2 separate regions of the Homo sapiens genome follow, and region 1 is linked to region 2. Evidence: fine-mapped expression QTL. A gene starts in region 2. The other region holds a variant in brackets. All regions are shown on one strand. Distances are between the middles of the regions.

Evidence for each region. PIP is the estimated chance that this variant, and not a neighbour inherited with it, causes the effect. A credible set is the group of variants that fine-mapping cannot tell apart.
Region 1: its variant is the best candidate, but not a certain one, in a credible set for the expression of MMP25-AS1 in esophagus muscle (GTEx, PIP 0.51).

Annotation. Positions count from the first base shown.
Region 1 is chr16:3,036,435-3,039,441 of GRCh38, reverse strand. BICDL2 (BICD family like cargo adaptor 2) reads left to right here and starts at 2,498. Exons shown (of 10, transcript NM_001369667.1): 1 at 2,498-2,548. It overlaps LOC100128770 (a long non-coding RNA gene), which reads right to left. Exons shown (of 8, transcript NR_047572.1): 4 at 2,482-3,007; 5 at 2,047-2,163; 6 at 1,736-1,812; 7 at 1,430-1,607; 8 at 309-1,134. RefSeq lists an enhancer at 901-1,788. The variant A/C (reference allele first, on the strand shown) is at 1,657.
Region 2 is chr16:3,058,273-3,060,772 of GRCh38, reverse strand. MMP25-AS1 (MMP25 antisense RNA 1) reads left to right here and starts at 1,403. Exons shown (of 5, transcript NR_123723.1): 1 at 1,403-1,777; 2 at 2,071-2,233. MMP25 (matrix metallopeptidase 25) reads right to left here. Exons shown (of 10, transcript NM_022468.5): 8 at 2,440-2,500; 9 at 2,104-2,361; 10 at 47-1,946. The coding sequence ends at 1,675. LOC124900372 (sialidase-like) reads left to right here and starts at 1,403. Exons shown (of 3, transcript XM_047435000.1): 1 at 1,403-1,777. RefSeq lists an enhancer at 260-1,165 and silencers at 1,204-1,673, 2,134-2,183, 2,324-2,453, 2,484-2,500.

The DNA of each region.
Region 1 (3,007 bases), 22 kb after region 2:
GGCACACGCCTGTAATCCCAGCTACTTAGGAGGCTGAGGCAGGAGAATCGCTTGAAACCGGGAGGCAGAGGTTGCGGTGAGGCGAGATCTCACCACCGCACTCCAGCCTGGGGGAGAGAGCGAGACTCCATCTCAAAAAAAATCCTCACATCCCTATAAGCTAGGAACTATCATCCCCATTTTACAGATGGGGAAACTGAGGGCCGCAGAGGTTAATCAGCTGAAGGGCATAGGCACCCACATCTGGTATGTGGCCAACTGGATCCTGGACCGAAGCTATGTGATGCCAGCACCCATGGGCCAAGCACTTTGCTGTACTGTTTTATTGGTTCATTTCTGGTTTATAGGTCTACGCTCCCTCCCATGGCCCAGGTGGACTGTGAACCTTCTGGGAGTAGGGCTGTAATCACTTCATCCTGGGATGAGCTCAGCCTGGCAGGAGGCGCTCAAGATGTGCTACGTGTGGGTGTGAGTGGGGCCCAGGGTGACTGGCATTTGGAGGGGACACTGAGCTTCTATTTCCAGAGGGTCACATAGCAGCACCCAGGGGAGGCTGGGATGTCTTCAGTCCTCCAGTGGCTACCAGGCTGCTCCCACAGGTGCAGTGGGAGAAAGTGTCAGGCTTGCTGGGCAATGTGGCTGTAAGACAAATCTCTGGCTCCCCTACTCTCTGCTGGCAGAAAACCCTGTCCCAGCCCCAGGACCCAGGAGTCCCAGTTCCTAAGTCACCCCTCCAAGGAGTCCTTGCTCCCCTTTTCCCACAAGCCAGGAGTCCCAGCCCCCACCCTCCTCCTATTTTTCTAGAACCCAAGTAAGTAGCCCCCAGTCCCCCAAGACTCAGGAGTCCTGATCCCCAGCCAGAGGTGCACGGACCCAGCTGACACCAGCCAGCCAGAGCTGATGTGCACAGCCCCTTCTACCTCTGCACTCCGTGACGCCAGGTGAGTAGCTGGAAGTCAGCCGAGGAGCAGGTATTGCATCATGGATATTGGCAAATGCAACGAGCGAGGGCTATTGTTTTAGCCGGGGAGCCTGTTGTTAAACGCTTACCAGCACGCCACTGCTCCCAGCCTTCCATCTGTCCTGCTCTCCAGGCCAGGAGCCCCTGTCACGAGGCCCAGGGAGCCCTGGAGTCTGGAGATAAATCGTGACAAGACACAAGGCCATGGATGGGGCATCACTGCTGCCCAAGCCACCCTGGGTCCCCAGCCCCGGACCTTCCCATCTCCACACCAAAGCCCCTGTCCCAGACAAGAGCACGGTCCCCAGCTCTGCATAACTGAGGAACTGAGAACCCCAGGTGTGGAGCCACACGGACTCGGGCATGGCTCTGGGCAAGTCACTCTCACTGCCTGGGCTACAGTGTCCTTGTCTGCGGCATGGGAATCAGTAAAGAGCATGACCCTAAAGCCACACTTGTGCTGTTCACCTTCCAGTTCTGACCAGGGGACCCCAAACAAGGTGGAGGACCCCCCTCCGCCTCCGAGCCTCAGCTTCCTCATCTGTAAGATGGGGATGACAGCAGTTCCTCGTCATCAGGTCATCATGAAAGTCAACAAGTTGAGCCGGGGAGGTGGCTCACTCTGTAATCCCAGCACTTTGGGAGGCTGAGGTGGGCGGATCACGAGGTCAGGAGTTTGAGACCAGCCTGGCCAA[A/C]ACATTGAAACACCATTTCTACTAAAAATACAAAATTAGCTGGATGTAGTGGTGCATGCCTATAGTACCCGCTACTCACCAGGCTGAGACAGGAGAATCACTTGAACCCGGGAGCGGAGGCTGCTGTGAGCTGAGATGGCACCACTGTACTCCAGCCTGGGCAAGAAGAGTAAAATTCCATCTCAAAAAAAAAAAAAAAGGTCAACAAGTTATGCCTATAAAAGAGTTTACTTGACCAGAAGCAGAGGCTCATGCCTGTAATCCCAGCACTTTGGGAGGCCGAAGCGGGAGGATTGCTTGAATCCAGAAGTTTGAGACCAGCCTGGGCAACATGGTGAAACCCCACCCCTACAAAAAGTACAAAAATTAGCTGGGCATGGTGGCATGTACCTGCAGTCCCAGCTACGGGGGAGGCTGTGGTGGGAGGATCGCTTGAGCCTGGGAGGACGAGACTGCAGTGATGGTGCCACTGCACTCCAGCCTGCGTGACAGAGCAAAATCCCATCTCTAAAAAATAAAAAAGAGTTTACTTAGCAGAATGCTTAAGATGTCAGATTCGGTGTTGTTGTCATTGCTAATAATTTCCTGCCCCACAGGGCAAGGCAGTCGTGACGGGAAAGGAGCGGAGGCTACCTCAATGTAGGATCTGCAAACAGTAGATGCTCAGTTAACTGGCCGGGCCATTTGCAACCACAGCAGGTTGGGCCAGTGCCCCCCACCCAGGTGGAAGCGACTCTCCCTCGACCCCGCCCGGCCATTCAGGCAGCCAGGGAGCGCCCCGGCCCCTCCCGCGGCCCCGCCCCTTCACCTGTGTTGGCCGCACACCTGGAGCCGCCTCCGGAAGAGGGGACCGGAGACCGCGGGGACCTCGGAGGGAGCCCGGCGGCTTCGGGTGAGAGCCTGGGGGACGCCGAGGGCCGGGCCCCTCGAGCCTGGGGAGGGCCTGGTCCGGCCGCGTCGGCGGAGAAGGTGGGGGAGCCGGGGCGGGGGCAGGGGAACCGGGATCGCCGGGGAACCGGGGGCGCCGGCAGGAACTCAGCCGTCGGGGGTGAGCCCAGCCGCTTCTCTGGGCTTCCGACGCCTGGGGCTGGAGGCCCCAACACCTGGGCAGCTAGGTGCGGAAGGGGAGGGGGAGCGGTCTCCAGGTCCCTGTCTCTCGCGTGGAGGGGGGCGGGGGAGCGGGGCCCGCGAGGGCCAAGTCAGGGAGGTCCCCGGGAGCGGCCTGGGGGCGGCTGGGCTGGGACCACCGTGACACTCACGTCCTGCGAGCAGGGCTGCACATGGACACCGGGCGAGAGGAGGAGGGAGAGCACGGGTGTGTGTGCCTAGTGGGTGGTGAGCCCCCGGAGGG
Region 2 (2,500 bases):
CCACACTTCTCCCCAGGTCCATCAATGCTCAGAAGAATGGAAGGGCTTTTTGTACATTCGTTTTTATTGTCCTGAGTGGGATGAATAAGTTTCTAATATACAAATTTCCCCCTCCTCATACATGGAAAAGAAACTGACAGAGGCCCAAATCGTTTCCTGGCAGCCCAGAATTCCCAGGTAACTGACCAAAGTCTCCTGCCTTCTGTCCTCATGCTGATCTGTTTGTATGAGCAACTGGGGCAACCCCTCGCATGGTTGCTGGGACAGCCGCCCACAGCCTCAGCTCCAGGAAGCACTAGGGGGTCACTGAGGCTGGACAGCAACTTAGGAAGTGGCCCCTAAGTGACTCTACCCATGGGGTTCAGGCCATCGGTGTGGCCTGAACATATTGGTCCTGGGGTGGAGGAACACTGCAGAGCCACAGAAATGCCACGAAACAGCCAGCTACTGCCCCCCACAATCCCCGCGACTAGTTAAAATGCAGATTCCTGACCCCACCCTGAGTGAGGATTCAGGGTGAGTGTGGGATCTGCAAACTTAAATTTCCCAGTGATTCTGATGTGGGATAGTCTAGAAGAATAGTTCCAGAGGCAATCATTTAGATCCTAAAACTGTGGGGAGTGGGGACAGGGTGAACGAGGTGCCCCCAGGTTCCACCCACCCCTCACTCTAGAGCTAAGGCCTCCCAGGAGGGAGTGCTGAGGAGGCAATGACCAGGCCTGAGCCAGGGTTCGGTCCCTGTCTTTCCACCAGCGTTGAGTTGATGGGAGTCAAGCTGTTCTCTCCAGGGTGCAAGCAGGGAAGGGGTTCTTGGGGATAGAAGGGTTCCCCATTGAATGGAAGGCAGTTCTGGGCCCAGGGAGGTGCCCAAGTTGGGTGGCCTGGGGAGGAGGAGGTGGGTGGCGGGGGAGCAACGGAAAAGGTTAACAGCCTGGAGAGCAAGGGTCGTCCCTCCAGCCACTGATTCCACCACCCAGGACGTGGCGCATGGGTCCTCAGGGGTGATATCTGGGCTGGTTCCGGGTCTGGGTCCCAGGTCCCCACCAGTGTGGCAGTGACTGTAGGGGGGCCTTGTGGGAGCAGAACGGGGTGAGAAACTGCGGGTGGGAGAGGGGCAAGGCACAGCTTCGCAGTCAGGCCTGTCCTCTAACGACCCAGGAATGCCAGACGCAGTGGCCAGGCGGGGCGGGGCTGCGGAGAGTCCCAGGACTGCGCTCCGAGAAAAGCTGGCTCTTCCTGGAAAAGGAAGGTCCTGCGGGGCCAGCGCGCGACCGGGGCTGCCGTCCCTCCGGGTGAGGCCGCGGGCCCGCCCCTTGTCCTCCCCGCCCCTCCCCGGGCTCGGGAGGCGGGGTCCGACCGCCCCCTGGCGGCAGCCGGGAGGGAACGACGGGGGCGACGACCGACGCATGGTCCCAGCGCGCGTGCGCCCCTGAAGGCGGGTTCCGGTGGCAGCGCCGGGGTCTCAGACCCTGAGGAGACTGAGCCCAGCGCCAGGCGACCGGTCCCCGCCGCCGCCGCCCCTGCGCGGGAGATCCCCCCTGCTTAGTCCGCGCCCGAGCCCCCGTCCGTGGGAACAGACAAGGGGCCTCCGCAGCGCCTCACAACCCCCGACCAGGTCCAGCGGCGGGGGACTCGGCCGTGGAGGGCGCTGTTCGGTCTGGATGGCTCCCCCCATCAGCGGGAGGCTACACCCCCCACCAGCAGGGGCAAGAGGAGCAGCGGGATGGGAGCAGGCCAACGTCCTGCGGCCTGGTTGAGCTCGCACTGACAATCGCAGGTTTCGGACACGGGGGTCGCTTTGGGGGGCCTGGGGGCGCGGGGACCAGAGCTCGGGGCGGGGCAGTCCAGCCAGTTGGGCCCCATGGGCTGGGGGGCGTCCGGCTCGGTCTTGATGCTGTTCTTGGGGAAGCGCCAGTAGTGGGCGCCCTTGAAGAAGTAGGTGTCACCTGGAGGAGCAGAGCTTGAGTCCCGGTCCCTCCCCGCCCCGCCGCTCCCTGATGCCCAAGGACCCCCATCCCCGCAGGGTGGCCTCCATGTCCCCATTCCCCACATCCCTCTCCCCACCCCCAGGCCCAGTAACCCGCAGGTCACCGCGCTCCCCACCTGCGTTGCTGACGGTGACATCGTCAGGGGAGGGGGGCGCGCCTTCCCAGAGGCTCAGGTCGCGAGGGTAGCCGGGGTCCGGGCGCGCCGCCGCCTCGTCGTAGCGCCAGTACTGCCGGCCGCGGACCAGGTAGGTCTTCCCGTTCTGTGGCCACGAGAACACGGCGTCCACCTCCTCTCCCGGGGGCAGCCCCAGCTCCGTGAGCGGCCGCGCCCCGCCCTCCAGCTGCCGGTCCTGGAACACCCAGAACTGGGGCCCTGCAGGGTGGAGGCCGGGAGGTCAGGGGTGGGCTCCCCGCGCCGGCCCCAGCGCGCCCCGCCGCCGGCCCCACTCACCGCTAAAGAGGAGGATTCGGCCGTCTCGGTGCCGAGCATAGGCGGCCTGCACCACCCTCAC